3 linked regions of the Homo sapiens genome follow. The protein of the gene in region 1 purifies or fractionates together with the protein of each later gene. This does not show direct contact. Each region holds a gene or a part of one and is shown in the gene's direction. Other genes may lie near its edges.

Region 1 (7,286 bases):
TAATATGATGATGGACCTGCTGCACCTCCATGAGAAGTTCTTCAGACCCCTCCCAGGTAGGGGCAAACCTGTCATTTCTCTTCCTTCACGCTAGTTTGCCATCTGGCAGAGGGATTGGTACACAATCATACCCCTGAGGCAGCTCCTAAAATGCCCATTCCTCCCCAGTGTCTGCAGGTTTCTGGAGAGTTTGGGCAGAGGCCTGTACTCTGATCTGTTACTGTCTCCCCAGAGTGGAAAACCAGGAGACTTTGTCAAGGGGGAAAAAATTTAAATTTGAATTGATACCCCTCTCCCCATTACTGAAGCTGTTCAGAGTTATTGTATGAAGCTTGGCAAAATCAGAAATGCATGAAGTCAGAAGTCACCTTTAATCAGCTAGTATCCTGAATTTTTACATATTTGATTACACTATTTGATTTTTGTTTGGCTTTTTTTCCACTTACCCAAAGCATTATTTTATGTTGTTAAAAACCTAATAAATGCTGCTTCAGTGTCATGTGACACTGTCTTCTGGCTGTCCCCTACTGTTTCATGGTTGATTCCATTATTGGACATTCAGTGGTGCAGCCTAGTGGGTAAAGTGGGGCCTCGAGCCTTGGTGATCTCATCCATCCCACACTCACTACGTGCGTAGTCTCCAGCGAGTTGACATTACCTTAATTGTAAGATTGGGATAATAGTGCCAATATCAGAGTTGTGAGATTAAATGAATTAATAAACGTACAAAGAACACTAGTCTAGATTACGAGGGGTAAGAAAGTTTTAGGAGCCATTTCCCCAAGAAACAATGAAACACCTGAGTTTGGGCATATTGAGAGAGTTGGAGAATTAGCAGTGAAATTAATAATACACATTCACCAAAAAACTAAGTACAACAAAATAAGCGCTGGGAGAACAAAAGCTGTGCAAGAAAGGAGAAGTCATTGTAGCCACCACAGAGCCTTTTGTGAATGACGCGCGTGGGGCGATACGGGCATGTGTGTGGAGGTGGAATGAGAGGGGTCATCACCCTCTCAGCCGGTGGGAGGTCGGGAGTGAGGTGTCTAACACCACACCATGCATGTGCGAGAGAGATGGGAATAAATACCAAAAGGAAAAGAACTGCGAGTGGTTGCCTTTGGGGAGTAGGAAATGGGAGAGTAGCGGGAAGAGATCACAGGGTTTTGTTTTTAGTGTGTGTGTTTTGCAATAAACCTCTTTAGGTGCAGGTATAACTGATAACTTTACCAACTGAGTTCTTGCATAAATTTTCTTTTATCAGGACACTTTACTAGTTATAATTTTTGATTTTTTTTCTTGGATTTTTCTCTGAGCAATTATTTACAAATGATATCATGTCTGCCTTTCTGATAATACTTCTATTTTTAAGTCTTATCCCATCGGCTAGAGCTTCGCAAACTACATTAACTACGGTTGGCAATAGAATGCATCCTGAATTTAATAGAAAACCGTTCGGCCTTTACTATTAAAAGTGGTGATGGCAGCTTGATCTGAGTTTAGAAATCCTTAGTGGCTAGGATTAATGGTGTTTTCAATTCCTGTTTTGTTTCAGTTTGCTTTATTAATCAGTGCCAGTGGCAAGCTAGGTTCAAGAATGTTCCTTCCCATTTTTGCCAACAAACAAATTCACTCTTGACTACCTGGGTTTTTCCCCTCAGAAAGCTACGATCAATTTAAGCAGAATATCCACAGCCTATTTCCTGTTCTCATTGATACCAAGAGTGTAACAAAGGATATCTGGAAGGTAATGAATAGAACTGCTTTGGGTTAAGAACTGCTTTTTCCATACCAGTAACACTTAGCTTTCTCTTGTGGGGTTTTTTTCTTGTGTTTTTTTGTTTTTTTTGTTTTGTTTTGTTTTGTTTTGTTTTGTTTGAGAGGGAGTCTTGCTCTCAAAGCCAGGCTGGAGTGCAATGGCGCGATCTCAGCTCACTGCAACCTTTGACTCCCTTGTTCAAGCGATTCTCCTGCCTCAGCCTCCTGAGTAGCTGGGATTACAGGTGCGCACCACCATGCCCTGCTAATTTTTTTGTATTTTTAGTAAAGACGGGGTTTCACCATGTTAGCCAGGATCGTCTTGATCTCCTGACCTCATGATCCACCCGCCTCGGCCTCCCAAAGTGCTGGGATTACAGGGGTGAGCCACTGCGCCCGGCCTGCCACTTGTGTTTTTTAAAGTTGTTCCTTGATTGCTTTTCTCTCTTCAAACCAGTATCAGTTTCCTTTTGTATTTTGGCACCTGTGCATCATTGTATTAGCTTATATATGACTTATTCCCTTTCTCTCCCTCCAGTTTCCACATTTTGACTTATTTGTGTAGAGTTTTTGTGCTTATTTAGATCAGACAACAGAACAACTTATTTTAGAACTTGATGCATGCCTTAGGAATATTTGCAACATGTGTACAGAGCACTGGGGGGGAGGGGGTTCCCTCCTGAAGAATCTTGAGAAAACCTCTTCTTCATTGAGCCCTCCAGTCATGGGTTCTCAGTCCTGAAAACATGTTGGAATCACGTGGAAAGTTGAAAATGCTGATAGCCAGGCTGCACTGGCAGCTTTTTGTCTGACCTAGAGTGGGGCCAGGTGGTATTTCTAAAGCTCCCTGGGTGATTCTGTTGTGGAGTCGAGGCTGTGTACTATGCATAGAGAAAAGCGACCTGACTGGTTTAAATGCTGCTTAGAAACGAAGCTGAGAATAGCCAGGCACAGTGGCTCACACCTGTAATCCCAGCATTTTGGGAGGCTGAGGTGGGTGAATGGCTTGAGCCCAGGAATTTGAGACTAGTCTGAGCAACATGGGTGAAACTCCATCTCTACAAAAAATACAAAAATTACCTGGGCATGTTGGTGCACACCTCCAGTCCTGGCTACTTGGGAGGCGTAAGTGGGAGGATCACTTAAAGCCCGGGAAGTGGAGATTGCAGTGAGCCGAGATTGCACCCCTGTATTCCAGCCTGGGCAACAGAGGAAGACCCTGTCTCAAGGGGAAAAAAAACAACAACTGAAGAACAGAGAAGGGGGCATCAGATCAATCTTGTGAAGCCTTAGAGTGATCCCTTACAAGTGAATTATCCAGCAAGGATGCCGCACAGATGGGAGTGGGGTCTGTGGTCTGTCTTTGCCCAGAGGCTGTTATTATTTGTAGTTGGTGTATTTCCAGCTACTATGAACTTTTAGGATTTAGTAACCAGGCATTGCCCCAAAGCCCTCTAGGCCTTAGAATGCCTGTATGCTCCATGTATGTCCCTGGCCTTTGTCCTCGTGCCTTGCTTTCCTGTGTTTATGGGTAATCTGTTGAACACATTTTCTAAGGGAGATAGTGTGTGTAGAGTTTTTTTCTAGCCTAGGTTTTTGAGAGTCCTTCTAGGAAACCCAGGAATACTGCGTACCCTGACATCCTAACTAAGGAATAAGGATGGTTGCACCATTTGAAGAGAAAGAGGAGGTTGTAGGAGTGAGCATTTTCCAGGCCATTTTAATGACCATTTGGTACTGCCTGAAACAGAGAATAAACAAAAGCGCAAATGTTTTCCTCTGGTTTGTTTTCCATGATTGTAGGAGATGAATTTCCCGAGGGTGTCGAATCTTTCGGAAGTCTATGAAGTCCTGAACAGGTGAGGACGGCGATTCCTGGAGCTACTGCTGGAGCGGCCTTGGTGGCCTCCCTGTGCTCCGCAGGCCTTTGGGCTCTCTAGGCGTGCCCACCATTCACAGTGATGCCTGCTTGGGACTTGGTCTCCTCCAGCTCCTCCTGCTTCATGGCCCCCTTCCTCCGATGACCCTCTTGCCTCCGTTTCCAAAGAGAGAGAAGCCAGAGACAGGAAATCTCTCAACCCCTGCCCCTCAAACAGTTGCGCGATTACTGTCCCCTTTTTCATTGTCTCGCCCCTGTCACCAGCAAATGGAGCACCTTCCCTGTGCAAGGCCAGGCAGGAGGAGCTGCCACCTACTCGTCACCTTCACCCCTGCTCAGCAACTCCCCACCCCTACCTGCCCCTTCCCGGGGTGTCTCCACCTCTTTCTGTCTCCCTCTCATTTCCTTCCACATCAACAAGTGTTCTCCCAACTTAACGACAAAGCCTCCTGAACTCTCTATGCTCCTCTTTCCTCAGCCCACGGCAGGCAGGGCCTTGTCTCCTTCACTCTGCTCTCCGCAGGGGCACCCAGAGCCGCCAGTCTGTCCCCAGTCAGCAGGACGAGGCACGAGAGGCGTTTGGAACAGGGATGGCACCCTGTTCTGGATGTGTGTGTGCGATTTTTTAAAACCCATTCCTTGTGATTCGTGTTCTCTACCTGTCTCCTACGTTTTCTCTCAAGGGCCCCTCCTCAACCGTGTTCCTGCTCATTCCTAGGCTCCCATGTGGCCTCATCCACCCCCTGGGCTTCAACTCCCAGCTCCTGTGTACCGCTGCGGTCCAGACCTCAGCATCTAGGACACTGCGTTTACCAGCTGTCTTCTTGATGTTCCCACCCTACATGACCTATGGGCACCTTCAACTTGACCCTCCTCTCTGTCCCTCAAGCACACTCTAGTGCCTGCAAATTCAGAAGTCTTGATGGTACCAGGCATGATACTGAGGGCTGTGTGTGCATGAGAGGGCAAAGCGGGGAGAGAGCTTTGTTGTAAATGCACAGGCTCTGATTCCAGGCTTCCTGGGTTTAAATCCCAGCTTTGCCACTCACTGGTTCTGTGAGTGACCTTGAGAGAATTACTTAATCTCTCTGTGCCTCAGTTTAACTATCTGTGAGATGAGAAAATAGTGTGTAACTCCAAGGTTGTTGTGAGGATTAAATGAGTTTGTAGATGTGGAAGGACTTAGAACAGCCCCTTGCATGTAGTCCAGGTCTGTTGAACCTTAGCTGCTGTTGACAACTATCCCAATCCTAAAGGACAGCTCATGGCACACCCACGACGACGACGCCTGTTTTACAGATGGGGACATTAGGGGTCAGGAGGCTAAGCACGTGAGGTTCCAGAACATCTTATTGAAAACCAGTGAAGCAAAGGTTTCCTTGTCACACACCATCTCCATTCACCCAGGTCCTGGAGCCAAGACCTAGAAGGGGTCACAGAGCTGAGTTGCTCACATCTGTTGAGTCAAGTTTTATGGACTTGACCCTGTAAGTCTCTCAAACCTCTCCTTTCTCTGCATTCTCAGGATTATTGTCTTTTCATTCCAACCAAGGAACTGTGGTAGTAGCCCCTGAGTGGTGTCCCAGCCTTGTGGCCTGCCCTCTTCATACCCCACACCGCCCCTTGAGTGATGATCTAGAATGTGAATTTGAATGGGCTCTTTTTTCTGATCAGTCTTTCTGTGGTTTCTGAAGCCCCTGCCTGTTGTAGGGGCTCCTCCCCACCCTCTTGGCCCTCCCTTCACACAAAGGCTTCAGCCCCACTTCTCAGCTCACTGCTTCTGGGGTCAGACCTCCTCCTTTTCCTCACTGTCTTTGCCTGCTCGAAATGCCTGCCGTCTCCCCATTCCTTGAACTCCATTGGATCATGTGGTTTGGGACTCTCCATGAGTGCTGTCTGCCTCCAGAAGCCTGCAGGGTCCTGGCGTGACTGTCATGCCTCAGGCCTTGCATTTACAAGAGGCAGGCATAATTGTCTCCGTAGTCGCTAGACAGGCCACTAGACAGCTCCGGAGGACAGAGACAGTATCTTGTCTATCTTGGTGCCTGGGCTCAAGTGAAGCATTTGATAAATGCCTGGAGTAACTCCACTGGGGCCTCCTGCACCATTGTTCTTTCCCCTTTCCTGTTGCCCAGTTACTAAGATCTTACCTGTCCATGCTTAGATTTGCACCTTAAAGATATGTCCTCAGTACATTTAAAAAATTTATATTAACTTAAGGGACTGAGGGGGAATACAAGAAGGGATTACTTTCAGCAAATTGTTTTTTATTCTATTTTTCTTTTCCAATAGTGACTTGAATCCCACCAAGAATTCTGGACCAGAGATTGTTCACGCGAGCAGGTGTGAGAAATATGGTACGTTCCCATGAGCCCATAATCCTTGCACAGTCGGCAGAGTGCTGAGGTGCTCAGCTGAGCTTGTCCTTGACCCTGGTTCCCCCACACCCCTCCCCACCCACCCGCCACACCCCTCCCCACCCCCCCACACCCCTCCCCTCCCCCCCACCTCTCCCCCTGCCCCGCCCCAGGCAGCAGGGGAGGGGGAGGTTTGTGTGGGGTTTTCCTTCACTCTGCTTACTCCATGTAACTCCTGCCCCAAATGAGCGAGCCCAGAATGCATCCAAGAGCCCTGGGAGTTGTCCATTTCCTCCTTAATGTGGTCCTTAGTCTATAAGGCAGCTCTGATCTTGGGGCTTTCTCCACCGTGGGGAGGACCAAGGTGAAGTTGGTGTGTGGGCCTGGAGAAGGGTATGCAGGACCATGGGAGGTTGTATGAGCTGCAGCCACTGTGGATGGTGAGCTAGGATGGGGCGTGTTTCTAATGACTGCTCAATTCTCTGTCCTCCTGGTGGAAAATGCCTCAGTTGAGACAAAGTGCCCCCACGAAGCCGCGTATGATGCCTTCCTCTGTGGGTCAGGTAAGGATTGCGGTTCCTTTAAAAGGAAACTCACTTTTTTTTTTTTTTTTTCTGAGACAGGGTCTCACTCTGTTGCCCAGGCTAGAGTACAGTGGTGAGGATCTCGGCTCACTGCAGCCTCTACCTCCTGGGCTCAGGTGATCCTCCCACCTCAGCTTCCCGAGTAGCTGGGACTACAGGTGCATGCCACCATGCCTGGCTGGGAATACAGGTGCATGCCACCACACCTGGCTAATTTTTGTATTTTTTGTAGAGATGGGGTTTCACCATGCTGCCCAGGCTGGTCTCAAACTCCTGGGTTCAAGCAATCCACCCGCCTCGGCCTCCCAAGGTGCTGGGATTACAGGCATGAGCCACCACACCCAGCTGGAGACTTACTTTTTGTTGGCAGTATGCCCCTGCCGTCCCTAGATTCTACATTTATTTCAGATTGGCTTGCACATAATGAGATAAAGCATAAGCATGCACATTTTGATAAGCTCTATTGCATTTCTGTCTTTTTTCCTTCCTAGTTCTTTTGAAAGTGGCACACTTGCTTCTACAGAAGATATACCAGTAAGTGTTCTTTCTTTTCATCCTACTGTTCAATCGGTGGTCAGGATTTATTGAGCCCTTGCTGGAAGCCAACACCTCTCCAGTCCCAGGGTTCTACCAAAGAAGGGAGAATGTGAGGTGTCACTGGTATAGAAATCTTGTCCCTGACTGGGCAGCAGCCCACAAATGGCTCTG
Region 2 (7,286 bases), on another chromosome or scaffold:
TTAAGACCTATTAACATCCCCTTCACAGATGAGACTATTAGGACACAGGCGAGTCTCACTTCCTTCCCCAAAGCCTCCGCTGGCATTGCACCACTGTTGTCTACTATTGAATGTGGCTATGGAGAAATCTGGGGCCAATCTGATTGGTTTCCCCTTAAAGGTGCCTTGATCTTTTTGCCTGGATGCTCAAAGGATAACTTATTTTTGAAGTCCAGTGAACCTCAGTGGGATATGTCACAGGGGTCATTCTTGTCAGTTTTTCTTGGGACATTCATTGTATGTCCTTTCAATCTATAGATTAAAGTGTTTTAATTTATGTGAAGTTTCCCTTGAATTCTACTTTGAATATTTTTTCTTTTCCACTTGTTCCCATTCTCCTTCAGTTCCCATTCTCCTTCATATGGACATGGTGGATATACTTTGTCTTTTTTATCTATACATTTATCTTAAATTCATTTTATTATTTTTAAATTTCCATTTCATTTTGCTTGCATTTCTCAACCTTGTCCTCCAAAGTTTTTTGTTGTTGTTATTGTTTTTGTTTGTTTAAGACAGGGTCTCACTCTGTCACCCAGGCTGGAGTACAGTCGTGTGATCTTGGCTCACTGCAACCTCTGCCTCCCAGGCTAAAGCGATCCTCCTACCTCAGCCTCCCAAGTAGCTAGTACTACATATATGTGCCCCCAAACCCAGCTAATTCTTTTGTATTATTTGTAGAGATGGGGTCTTGCTGTATTGCCCAGGCTGCTCTTGAACTCCTGAGCTCAAGCGATCTGCCTGCCCAGCCTCCCAAAGTGCTGTTATTACAGGGATGAGCCACCACGCCTGGCCTAGTCCTCCTAAATCTTACTGTGTTTTATCCCTGTCTGTCTTTCCCCTCATTTATAATGTGGCTTTTATTTCTAGATGTTTTATTTTCCTTCCTGTCTGAGTTCTGTTAGCTTATTTTAAACTTCCTTCTATTGCCTCATCATTTCTTCTGCTTTGAAGTCTTATTTTAAACTGGTTCAGTAAGTCCTTTAAATTCATAACAATATGTTTGGTCTGTTTCATAGCAACATTCTTCTAGAAATTTTTTTCTTTTTTTTTGAGACGGAGATTCGCTCTTCTTGCCCAGGCTGGAGTGCAATGGTGTGATCTCGGCTCACTGCAACCTCCGCCCCCGCAGGGTTCAAGCGACTCTTCCACCGCAGCCTCCTGAATACTTGAGATTACAGGCATGCGCCACCACGCCCAGCTAATTTTGTATTTTTAGTAGAGGCGGGGTTTCTCCATGTTTGTCAGGCTCGTCTCGAACTCCTGACCTCAGGTGATCCACCTGCCTCGGCCCCCCAAAGTGCTGGGATTATAGGCGTGAGCCACTGCACCCTGCCTAGAAAATTTTTTTTATCTGACATTTGCTTTTCCTATTCCATTCTTCCTAATTCTTGTAGATTTGCTGTATAGATCTTTTGCTTGTTTGGTTTTGATTATTACTCATTACTGAGTGAAATGAGGTCTCCTTCAGCCAGCCATGTGCGGGAAGCAACTGGGCAGTGAACTGAGCTGGTAGTGAAGCTGCTTCTGGCCCTCTCTCCCAACCGTAGTTCATCAACAGACTGCCTCCAGCAAAGAGAACATTTCTGAGCATTTTATCATTCAGGCCTGTCTTATCTTACTATTTCATGGTGCCAAATAGAGTTCTGGGAAGTTCCCACAGCTTGTGCCCCTTAAATCTTTGTTGCAACCAGGATAATGGTTGTGCTCTGCAGATGTACCACCTACTTGGTGCTCTGCCAACTTTGTCTGAGAGTGGGGACCACAGCAGGTGTTTAATCTCAGCATACTTGTAGGCTCTGGTGTAATCTTCACTGAATTTGGCAGGTCATCCTCATTTATTGTGCCTAGGGTTTCATTGGTACCATATTTTTTCAGAGAGTGGATGGGTTTTTTTCCCTTTCTTGTTTTTGGGTGATCTCAAGGATGACAATGTGACAGAGGTAACTTTATTTTGTTATTCTAAACTTTATTTATTTTAAAACCAGAAGTTTTTTTTTTTTTTTTTTTTGAGATAGGGTCTCACTCTCTCACCCAGGCTGGAGTGCAGTGGCATGATCTCGGCTCACCACAACCTCTGCCTCCCAGGCTCAAGTGATTCTTCTGCCTCAGCCTCCCGAGTAGCTGGCATTACAGGCGCCCGCCACCACGCCTGGCTCATTTTTTTATTTTAGTAGAGATGGGGTTTCACCATGTTAGCCAGGCTGGTCTCGAACTCCTGACCTCAAATGATCCACCAGCCTCGGCCTCCCAAAGTGCTGGGATTACAAGCGTGAGCCACGGTGCCTGGCCTAAAACCGGAACCATTTTTAAAGATAGAGTGCCTCTATTCTTGGAAGGAGTAGGTAACATACCACCTTAGACCATGTCATGTGGGAAAAATAGTTTCAAAATTCTACGCACACCCCAGCAGCAACAAGCTTTCTCATAATCATATAGGTATAAGTAACAGAGCTTAGATCAAATCCAGGTCTGTCTAAGTCCAAAGCCTCAGTTCTTTTTGTCATAGAACTTACTCATAAAGGATATAGATATCTCTTTATGCTTCTTCTTGTGAATATTTTTCTATTAACTACTTTTTTATTTCCTGGTTTTTAGTGTGACAAGTACAAGACTGGAGTTATTGATGGGCCTGCATGTAACAGCCTTTGTGTTACAGAAACTCTTTACTTTGGAAAATGTTTATCCACCAAGCCCAACAATCAGGTATGGCCATTATGAATAAACATTCCAGAATTATAGTGTACTCTAATTTTACCAGAAATTAAAGGCATTATTAAAAGAATTCTTGAACCAAAGCTTTGAGACATTATATGTATTTCAATTTTGTATGCTTTGATTCATTCATTAAACAGACATTTATTTTATTTTAATTTTTTGAGACAGGATCTGTTGTCCAGGCTGGAGTACAGTGGTGAGATCTCTGCTCACTGCAACCTCCACTTCCCAGGCTCAAGTGAGCCTCCCACCTCAGCCTCCCATGTAGCTGGGACTACAGGCTCACACAACCACACTTGGCTAATTTTTTGTATTTTTGTAGAAACAGAGTCCCGCCATGTTGCCCAGGCTGGTCTCGAACTCCTGAGCTCAAGCAATCCACCCGCCTTGGCCTTCCAAAGTGCTGGGATTATAGATGTCAGCCACCACACCTGGCCAGTCAAAAGATATTTATTAATCTATCCCCAGTATATTCCAGACACTGTTTTGTTTTGTTTTTTTTTTTCTGTCAGCACTTTGATGTTAGATGCTGTTTCAGTTACCAGGAATACAATGGTGATTAAGGCAACCTGGTGCGGTGGCTCACGCATGTAATCCCAACACTTTGGGAGGCTGAGATGGGAGGACCACTTGCGCCCAGGAGTCTGAGACCAGCCTGGGCAATGTAGTGAGACCCTGTCTCTCCAAAATTTAAAAAAAATGCCAGGTGTGGTGGCACACACCTGTGGTTCTAGCTACTCAGGAGGCTGAAGTGGGAAGATTGCTTGAGCCCAGGAGGTTGAGGCTGCAGTGAGCTATGGTCCCACCACTGCACTCCAGCCTGGGTGACAGAGTGAGTGAGTGTCTCAAAAAATAAAAAATAAAAATAAAAAAATACAAACAGCCGGGCCCGTGGCACGGGCCTGTAATCCCAGCACTTCAGGAGGCCAAGGTGGGTGGATTGCTTTAGTCCAGGAGTTTGAGGCCTACCTGAGCAACATAGCAAAACCCTGTCTCTACAAAAAATACAAAAATTAGCTGGGTGGCCAGGCACAGTGGCATACACCTGTAATCCCAGCACTTTGGGAGGCTGAGGCGGTAGGTCACTTGAGGCCAGGCATTCAAGACCAACCTGAGCAACATTGCGATACCCCCTCTCTACTAAAAACACAAAAAATTAGCCGGGTGTGGTGGCACATGCCTGTAATCCCAGCAACTCCAGAGGCTGAGGCACAAGAATCGCTTGAACCTGGGAGGCGGAGGTTCCAGTGAGCCAAGATCTCACATCACTGCACTCCAGCCTGGACAATAGAGCGAGACTGTCTCAAAAAATATATATGTATTAGCTGGGTGTGGTGGCACACACCTATGGTCCCAGCTACTCGGGAGGCTGAGGTGGGACAATCACTTGAGCCCAGGAGGTCAGGGCTGCAGTGAGCCGTGTTCATGTCACTGCACTCCAGCCTGGGTGACAGAGTGACACCCTGTCTCAAAAAAAAAAAAAAAAACAAAAAAAAACCAGACAAGATTGCTTCCCTTACAGACCTTACATGATTCCAGAGGGACAGGAGGTACAAACAGTTGATAAATAAATAAATAAACAAACAAAATAATTGTAGAATATGGTGTGTTCTGTAGGAGACACAGAGGGCAAATTGATAGAGAATGCAGTGTAAGGGATGGTGAGAAGTGCTTTAGAGGATGTGATCAGAGAAGACCTTTCTGAAATAATATTTGAACTTATACCTTAATAAAAAATTCATAGGCATGGGAAAAGGACAGGATGAACTAAATCACAAAAGAACTGCAAACAGCTGATGAACATAATGAAAAAAAATTCTACCTTACTTTTCATCAGAGAAATAAGAATAAAACAGTAGAATATCTAATTGGGGTAGAAGAAAATACAACGAAACATCTGGAGCAGTGGAAAATTGCATTTTAATGTTCATCTTATGGTTCCTAAATTTTCCTATATAAATATGCATTATTATTATAGAAATTTAAACTAATTTTTCAGTTGACAGTATTAATCATGTTAAAGACAATTTCTAAAACAAAGTCCAACATTTGAGTGTCTCCTGCATGCCAGGCACTGTTTGAGGCACTGAGGGAGACAGATAAAGCCTCTGGCCTCATGTTCTAATGTGAGATGAGACAGATAGTAATGAACTGATAAATAAATAAATATGATAATTTTAGACAGTGCAAAAGGCTATGAGGATAATGAAACAGGGTTAGAGGTGACCTGGGGGTGGAAGAGGATCTCTTCTAGACAGGGGGTCAGGGAAGGCTTTCTAAATGCAATGTCTAATCTGAGACTTGAATGATGTAAAGGAGCCAGCCATGTGAAGATCTGGGAGAGTACATTCCAGGCAGAGCCAGCAGCAAGTGAAGCAGGTCAGGAAGCAGAAACAAGCTTCAACCTGTCACAGAAAGACCAGTGTAGCTGGGACTTTGAGAAACGGAGTACGTGGTACAAGATCAGGTTGGAGACATAGGCGAGGCTAGCTCAAATGGAGCCCAACCGGTCATGGAAAGGACTTTGGACTTTAATTGAAAGGGGAATTTATTAGAGGGTTTGGAGCAAGGCAGTGAAATAATGTTTTCTTTGGATTAATATTAAGAATGAATATGATCTTATTTATTTTTTTATGTAGAAGAGGGGCAACCTATCCTAGTGGTAAAGACCTCAGCTCTTTTCAGCATGTTACTTCACCTGTATCTGCTTCAGTTTCCCCATCAGTGAAATAAGTATAATGATAGTACCTACCACCTAAGATTGGTACAAGGATTAAAATAATAACATAAATCAGTAAAAGCCAGGTGTGGTGCCTCATACCTACAATCCCAGCAACTTGAGAGGCTGAGGCAGGTGGGTCACTTAAGGCTAGCAGTTCAGGACCAGCCTGAGCAATACAGCAAGACCCCATCTCTACAAAAAATGTTTTTAATTAGCCAGGTTTAGTGGTACATGCCTATAGTCCTGGCTACTTGGGAGACTGAGGCAGGAAGATTCCTTGAGCTCAGGACTTTGAGGCTGCAATGAGCTATGATTATGCCACTGAACCCCAGCCTGGGTGACAAAGCAAGACCCTGTCTCTAAAATAAATTAGTAGACCATAGGACATAGTTAACACTATATAATATTAGTTTGATAAATAACTAGATACTTAAATAGTAGTTAATTCTGGGGAAGTGGGATTATGGAAGTAGAATGTCTGGGAACTTTGCTTTTGCCTTACATCCTTCTCATTGGACTTTTTGAAAAATATATTTAGGCATGCATTACTCTTATAATTTAAAAAATTAGTTTAAGGAAAAAATCTTGAGTGTGATTTCAAGTTTGCAGTTCAGAAATAAAGTCACACCTTAACCTCAATGTTTGATGCTTGTTTTGTTTTGTTCAGAGGAGGAGGACCCTAAAAATATAGTAGTATATTTTTTAGAGTTTTCTACTCAGTATAATACATAACTTGCCACTCTTTTTTACATAGATGTATTTAGGGATTTGGGATAATCTACCAGGTGTTGTGAAATGTCAAATGGAACAAGCGCTTCATCTTGATTTTGGAACTGAATTGGAACCAAGAAAAGAAATAGTGCTATTTGATAAGCCAACTAGAGGAACTACTGTACAAAAATTTAAAGAAATGGTCTATAGTCTCTTTAAGGTAAGCATACCCATTCATATGTTGCTAGTGTGAAGTGGGACTCTTTAGAGGAATTGGCAGGACCTCATCCTAAGCCATTAAAGTGTTGATATTCTTTGACCTCTATCAGATTCTCCATCCTGAGGAAATAATTATAAGAGGCCGGGCGTGGTGGCTCACGCCTGTTATCCCAGCACTTTGGGAGGCCAAGGCAGGAGGATCACTTGAGCCCAGGAGTTCAAGTCCAGCCTGGGCAACATAGTAAGACCTCAGCTATATATATATATATATACACGTATATATATATATACGTGTGTGTGTATATATATATATATATATACACACATATATATATACACACATATATATATATATATATATATATATATATATATATATATATATATATATGCCAGGAGTGGTGGCATGTGCCTGTAGTCCTAACTACTTGAGATGCTGAGGTGCGAGGATTGCTTGAGCCTGGGAGGTCGAGGTTGCAGTGAGCCAAGATCTCACCACTGCACTCCAGCCTGGACGACAAAGTGAGACCCTGTTTCAAAAAAAAAAAGAAAAAGAAAAGAAATCTGTGTTGGAGAATGTTTACTTTAACATTATTTATGATAGCTAAAAATGTCCAGATATGAGGAGGGAGTTCATTAATTAATTGGAGTGCTGTACAGTTTGACATGAAAATTAATTCAAAAAAGGTGAAATAAAATGAGTATACTCTTAGAATTGTGGCTATTAGAGGCTGGGAAGGGTACAGAGGAGAGGAGAATAAGGAGAGGTTGGTTAACAGATACAAAATTACCGCTAGATAGGCAGAATAAGTTCTAGTGTTCTATAGCACTATAGGGTAAAGGGATTAATAATTTTTGGTTATTTTCAAAAAACTAAAAG
Region 3 (7,211 bases), on another chromosome or scaffold:
CCCGAGTAGCTGGGACTACAAGCGTCTGCCATGACGCCCAGCTAATTTTTTTATTTTTAGTAGGGACGGGGTTTTGCCATGTTGGCTAGGCTGGTCTTGAACTCCTGACCTCAGGTGATCCGCCCGCCTCCGCCTCCCAAAATGCTGGTATTACAGGCATGAGCCACCGGGATTACAGGCAGGAGCCACTTGGGAGCCCAAGGTGGGCGGATCACCTGAGGTCAGGAGTTCGAGACAAGCCTGACCAACGTGGTAAACCCCATCTCTACTAAAAATAGAAAAAACTTAGCTGGGAGTGGTGACAGGCACCTGTAGTCCCAGCTACTCAGGAGGCTGGGACAGGTGAACCCCATCTCTACTAAAAATAGAAAAAACTTAGCTGGGCGTGGTGACAGGCACCTGTAGTCCCAGCTACTCGGAAGGCTGGGACAGGAGAATTGCTTGAACCCGGGAGGCAGAGGTTGCAGTGAGCCGAGATCGAACCACTGCACTCCAACCTAGATGACAGAGTGAGACTCCGTCTCAAAAAAAAAAAAAAGATTTTAATCAACAGATAATTAATATTTTATTACATAATAAAGATGAAACACAATTCCATATCTTTCATAGAAGCTGAACCGACACAAGGATTTCTAACTAATTATGTTCTTTTACTACTAATGAGGTGAAGCATATGCCAGAATAATGTTTCTTGTTTTTTGTTTTTTTGCTGCTGTTGTTTTTTTGACAGGGTCTCATTCTCAGCCAGGCTTGAGTGCAGTGGCTTGATCACAGCTCACTGCAGCCTCAACCTCTTTGGCTCAGGTGATCCTCCCACCTCAGCCTCCCAGGTAGCTGGAACTACAGGTGCACGCCACCATGCCCAGCTATTTTTTGTATTTTTTAGTAGTGGCGGGGCTTCACCATGTTGCCAAGGCTGGTCTTGAACTCCTGGGCTCGAGCGATCTGCCGGCCTTGGCCTCCCAAAAAGCTGGGATTACAGGCATGAGCCACCTCGATCAGCCTCAGAAGAATGTTTTAAAAATAGACTGCATGTATTTTTTTGGTTTCAAGTAGAGAAGTTTTAAGGCCTTCTGTTTTATATTGTTCTTACATCTTGGCAGCACTTTTTCCTGGGAACATGGAAAGCACATGATTAATTTCAAGATGGAAATATCAGAAATCATGTTCGACTCATCATTTATCACATCCAATTTGTCATCAGGCCCTGTAGATTTCATTTCCAGCATCTTTTGAATTCATTCTCTTTGAACATTTTTATTTTCATTGCCTCATACCAGGCCTTTATTTTCTTACTCAGTTTACTATAAAAGCCTCCTAAACTACATTTGCTAAAGACTTAACTTTTTAAAACAAAGAACATTTCACATTATGTCCTTAAAATATCCATTGCATAGAGAAGAGGTCCTCAAACTTCTAGAGAAGGCGGAAAATCACACGGCTCTTTGAATAGCTCATAAGTAAAAGACAATTTGGGAAAATTTGGGTTCTTTAGGACTGGTCAGGGTGACGCAAAATGTAATGAAATGCTCCTTCACATCTTGCATAAGAAACTAGCAGCCCATGGTTTTGCAGTGATAAAACAATCAGAGTATCGTCTGAAATCATCTTACAACCATATGTCCACTAGCCATCTGGAAACAGCTGGCCTTAGGAATTAGGAAATGGCCTACTGAAAACTCAGCTGTAATGCCTGCTGCAAGGCAACATCTTGAGTAGTTCAGGTTCTAATTCTTCTTGAATGAAATATAGATTTTTAATAAAAACAGCCTATTTTTCTCACAGTAAGATTACACTGGTTTGAGAATAAGATGCTCCACTCTCATTATCCTTATGTGTTTTTTGTTTGTTTGTTTTGTGTGATGGAGTTTCGCTCTTGTTGCCCAGGCTGGAATGCAATGGCATGATCTCGGCTCACCGCAACCTCCACCTCCCAGGTTCAAGCAATTCTCCTGCCTCAGCCTCCCGAGTAGCTGGGATTACAGGCATGCGCCACCACGCCCGGCTAATTTTGTATTTTTAGCAGAGATGGGGTTTCTCCATGTTGGTCAGGCTGGTCTCGAACTCCTGACCTCAGGTGATCCACCTGCCTCAGCCTCCCAAAGTGTTGGGATTACAGGCATGAGCCACCGTGCCCGGCCCTAATGTGGGTTTTTAGGGTTCAAGAGAAGAATGTTTCTACTAGGGCATAATTATCTCTATCTTATCTTATATTTCCATTTGTTATTTTAAGAAGCTATTTTTTTTCTATCATTTTTCTTTCCCCTGTTATTGTAGAGGTCAGGCAAACTTAAAATTTAGTCCATTAGTCAACTTGAGGTGACCGTGAAGAAACTGTAGGATATTAAGACTCTAGACTTAGAAAACAGCAGACCTCAATAGCTACTATATGTTTTCCAAGAGGTGCAGCTCTTTCAGTCAGCTGATCTGATAAGCAGCATACTCAGGTACTGTTGCTCATGTCCAGGGACCCTACCATATCCTGTGGTTTTCAGGGTCCTTATATTCTGTGCTCTCTTGGCTCTGGCACCAGGCCTTTTCTGGTCCACTGTTTCTAACTCCTGGTAAAGTGTTGTTTTAAGGCAAAAAACATCTTTACGGGGAACCAGACATAAAAAGAGTTCCTGGAGGCCCTGCGTGGTAGCTCATGCCTGTAATCCCAGCACTTTGTGGGGCTGAGGCCGGTGGATCACTTGAGGTCAGGATTTCAAGACCAGCCTGGGCAACATGGTGAAACCACACCCCTCCACTTCTCTACTAAAAGTACAAAAAATTATCCGGGCGTGGTGGTGGGCACCTGTAAACCCAGCACTTCGGGGGGCCAAGGTGGGCGGATCACTTGAGGCCAGGAGTTGGAGACTAGCCTGGCCAACCAACATGGTGAAATCCCATCTCTACTAAAAATATGAAAATTAAGTGGTGGCTTGCGCCTGTAGTCCCAGCTACTGGGAAGGCCGAGGCACGAAAATCGCTTTAACCTGGGAGGCGGAGGTTGCAGTGAACCTAGATCGAGTCATTGCATTCCAGCCTGGGCGACAGAGCGAGACTCTGTCTCAAAAAAAAAAAAAAAAAGTTCCTGGAACCGTTTCTGCACATCACTGAAAAATGATAGCCTCTCCCCAAATATCCTAACTTAAAGGTGCTATTAGGAGAATCTTGCTGCCTGCTAATAATGGGGTGTCCATAATTACCCCATGACTTCAGTGAATTCTCGTGCCTGTTTCTCCCGATCTAAAATGGGTATATTTCATTTACTAAATTTACTTCTGAGTACTGTTGGGGAAAAGATCCCGGTGTTTGTTGAAGAATGCTAGATATAATGAAAGTTAAACACAGTTTAACAAATTAAAATTATTCCCTATTGCTCTGTAATATCTAATTGCACACTGCTCTACCCCAGACCATTGTATTATCTCCCCGCCCCCCCCCCCAGAATATCATGAAATGCAACATATTTGCTAAACCAGTTTTGGTGATTTAAAACAAGTTCCAAGCACAAGCTTCTTTCTTGTAATGGTCAAGTGGCCTACGAAACCAAAGCGCCAACTGAGAACGTTTTGCTGCTGCACTCTGAAATCCCAGCGAGAACGCAGGCAGCGATGGCAGTTCTGGAGCACCGGGTTCCACTTCTGCCTCTGACCGGCTTTGTGACTTCCACCACATTAGATCTGAGTTTCCTCCATGTAAAATGGGGCGGGAATGGAGGCTGGACCTGGGAGGTGTCGCTGATGATCGTCTCTGACTCGCTAAGTCGCGGAGTCACAAAAGTGGCGGAAAGCATGCCCTCACTTTTTGGGAAGAGTAGGACGAGGGGCGGGGCTGCAGCGAGACCCACCAGTCTCGCTTTCCAGGGCAGGCGGCGGCCAGGAGCTACAGCTGTGGGCTGCACTCCCGGCGTGGAGTCTCCTTCCTGCCCGCGCAGGCCCCGGCGCCCCAGCGAAACGCTCCGGCCGCTCCCCTCTCCCAACACTCTGGTTCCCGGGCCGCCTGCGGGGACGCGGTTGGCGGCGACACCGGAGGGGGGTGGGTCAGGAAGTGGGGGCGCGGCGGCCAGGAGCGGGCCCCCGGAGGCCGAGGGGTTCGGCGACGCGGAGGGAGGGAGAGTCTGGGCCGCGCGGGAGCCGCAGGGCGCCCTAGCCTTCGCAGAAACGATGGCGGAGGAAGAAGGTGATTGCCGCGGGGTCCAGCGCGCCAACGGCTGCCAGTGGTCTCGGGAAGGAGGGGCGGGGGCGCTGGAGGTCTGGGTTGGAGCTGCTGGTGGCCGCGGTCGCGGTGGCGGCCGCGCGGGCAGGGCGGGAAGGAGCGCGGCGCCCAGGAGAGGACTGCGGAGAAATTCAGGAGAGCGGAGCAAATGGCCCGAAGTTTTGTCGGCCGAATTGGGAAGCAAAGGTGGAGCTGAAAGTTGGGAATCCGTAGCAAGAGAGAAAGCTGTGCCGGGAGTGGTTGGGAAAGAGGGAGGGTCCTGATCAGATTCTTGGTGAAGTGGGAGGCGCAGTTTGGTTTCGAAGATCAGGTTTAGGTACTCAGTGCATATTTGGAATGCGATTTTTAAAGGGCTGTGGATATTGACAAACCCAGAGGCACAGGGGGCGAGGGAACATTCACCACGGGGATAAAGAGGCAGGGATTTGGGATAAACGTGGCAAGATTAATTGGGAATGGGCGAACACGCAGAAACTGAAGAAAGCCAAGTTCACTTAGGTTCAGGGGAAAATGGTAAAGAGCAGAGCCATCTAATTATTATAGTTTTGGGAGATGATGAGGCCAGGAGGCCTTTGAGGGTCAAAGTGGGTGAGCTGGAGAAAGGTTTCCATGCCGCCTTCAGGATCAATGCTAAGATAAGTAATTCATTCAGCAGTATTTTATTTATAGAAAATGATAAGTATGAGACAAAAATGGGAAGTTAGATGAAACTTATCGGTTAGTGATAAACAATACAAGGAATACTCATGGCATAGTAACTTCATGATAACCCCTACTAGTTTCAGGAAGTGAGAAGCAATTAGATTTTTGCATTCTGGTGGAAAACACAACTTTTTACCTTATGAGTGGAGCTGTGGATGTGATAGTAAATCGATCTAATTTAGACTCAAGCCCCCCTGCCTTTTTTTTTTTTGAAACGGAGTTTCGTTCTTGTTGCCCAGTCTAGAGTGCAAAGGCGCGATCTCGGTTCACCGCAACCTCCGCTTCCTGGATTCAAGCGATTCTCCTGCCTCAGCCTCCCTAGTAGCTGGGATTACAGGCATGCGCCATCACGCCCGGTTAATGTTATATTTTGAGTAGAGACGGGGTTTCTCCATGTTGGTCAGGCTGGTCTTGAACTTCTGACCTCAGGTGATCCGCCCACCTCGGCCTCCCAGAGTGCTGGGATTACAGGCGTGAGCCACGGGTCCAGCCGACTCAAGCCTTTCTGAATCAAGAGTGCAAGGAAGGAGTTTAAAGGATTCAGCGGAAAGCAATTTTTAAAAATTAAGCATAAGAAGTGTTTACTGATGTGTGACTTGCTGACCTGTCCCTATGCAGGCTTGGTTCATATTTGTTTCCATTGAGTTTTCAGAGTGTTAAAGCTGGTCTGAATTTAAGACATTCTAACTAAAAACAGCTTCAAAAACAAAGCTATTTGTCGTTGGTGAGAAAGAATGTAATTCCATTTGTTTACTTGGTTCTGTCTGTGGTTACAGTATATCATCATTTGAAATATTTCTTGATGTATTTTTCTTTTCTAATTGCAAATTTATGGGGGTAGGTTGATATACTAGCTTGTAGGTTCCTATGAGTACATTCATGCTTAACTTAAAGCATTAAAAAAGTTAAGACTGCATTAAAAAATCAGTACTACAATACTGAAAGTCTTTAATACATCATGCAAAATGAAAAATTATTTTAGACTATGGTTGTACTTAAATAGATCTGTGGAGCCAATATTAAAAGATTGTACCGTTTTGTAAATTTTACTTACGTGATGTAAAATGATAAATGGGCGGGGCATGATGGCTCATGCCTGTAGTCCCAGCACTTTGGGAGGCCAAGGCGAGTGGATCACTTGAAGTCAGAAGTTCGAGACCAGCCTGGCTAACACAGTGAAACCCCATCTCTACTAAAAATACAAAAATCAGCCGGGTGGAGTGGCAAGTGTCTGTAGTCCCAGCTACTCAGGAGGCTGAGATAGGAGAATCACTTGAACCCGGGAGGCGGAGGTTGCAGTGAGCCAAGATTGCACCATTGCACTCCAGCCTGGGTGACAGAGTGAGACTCCATCTAAAAAAAAATAAAATTAAGGCCGGGCAAGGTGGCTCACGCCTGTAATCCTAACACTTTGGGAGGCCAAGGTGGGCGGATCACGAGGTCAGGAGTTCGAGACCAGCCTGGCCAATATGGTGAAACCCTGTCTCTACTAAAAAATACAAAAGTTAGCCGGGCATGGTGGCGCATGCCTATAGTCCCAGCTACCCGGGAGGCTGAGGCAAGAGAATCGATGGAACCCAGGAGGCCGAGGTTGCAGTGAGACGAGATCGCCCCACTGCACTCCAGCCTGGGTGACAGAGTGAGACTCCCTCTCAAAAATAAAATAAATAAAATGATAAATGATTTTTGGTTGTAGAATTACATATAATTCAAAAGCAGTTAAATACATCTTACATGGGACAATTAATGGGTTGTAATTTATTAAAATATTGCTTTATTCAACACATTTCTAATTCCATAAATATGTGTATTCATACCCTATTAGATGCAAGGATATAATAGTCAACAATGAATGAGTAAATTTTCATTTATTATAATGCTAGTAATAATAATACATATAGCAAACCTGTCTGTCTATGTGCCAGGCATTCTGAGTGTTTTATGTTTATTTGTCACTCTATACTTTTTTTCCCCCAGAATCCGTATTATCTTTTGTTCGCTGTGTTAAAATTAGACTAAATAGTCTGTGTATTTTACTTGTATCCAGGTGTTCTCCGCGTCCCATCTTGCTTACCATTCACATTCACTTGGATCCTCTTCATTGTCCAAGTAAATACTCTGGGAATCTGGTCTTTAAAAAAATGTCTTCCTTGATGCAGTAGAGGGCCAGGGTGTTTATATTTATGCTTTCTGAACGCAATGTTAGAGCAAAGAAAGAAGTGACAACCTTGAGTAGAGCAGTATTAACATTTCACTTGGAAACTGCTATGTCTAGCCTGGATAGACATTTGAAAGTCTGTTTGTAG

Evidence for each region. Proteins that work in one complex are often made in the same cells at the same time.
Region 2: the proteins of PNLDC1 (region 1) and DIPK1A purify together in Homo sapiens (affinity purification with mass spectrometry; 2 studies listed by BioGRID and IntAct, with this or other methods). This does not show direct contact.
Region 3: the proteins of PNLDC1 (region 1) and DPY19L4 purify together in Homo sapiens (affinity purification with mass spectrometry; 2 studies listed by BioGRID and IntAct, with this or other methods). This does not show direct contact.

Annotation. Positions count from the first base shown.
Region 1 is NC_000006.12:159,810,040-159,817,325, forward strand, and holds part of PNLDC1 (poly(A)-specific ribonuclease PNLDC1), read left to right. Parts: coding exon 1-56; intron 57-1,661; coding exon 1,662-1,747; intron 1,748-3,561; coding exon 3,562-3,617; intron 3,618-5,929; coding exon 5,930-5,994; intron 5,995-6,503; coding exon 6,504-6,557; intron 6,558-7,069; coding exon 7,070-7,112; intron 7,113-7,286. UniProt on the Homo sapiens protein: 3'-exoribonuclease that has a preference for poly(A) tails of mRNAs, thereby efficiently degrading poly(A) tails.
Region 2 is NC_000001.11:92,846,304-92,853,589, reverse strand, and holds part of DIPK1A (divergent protein kinase domain 1A), read left to right. Parts: intron 1-2,634; coding exon 2,635-2,742; intron 2,743-6,230; coding exon 6,231-6,407; intron 6,408-7,286.
Region 3 is NC_000008.11:94,715,848-94,723,058, forward strand, and holds the start of DPY19L4 (probable C-mannosyltransferase DPY19L4), read left to right. Parts: upstream 1-4,052; 5' UTR 4,053-4,151; coding exon 4,152-4,167; coding exon of another isoform or gene 4,168-4,389; intron 4,390-7,211. UniProt on the Homo sapiens protein: Probable C-mannosyltransferase that mediates C-mannosylation of tryptophan residues on target proteins.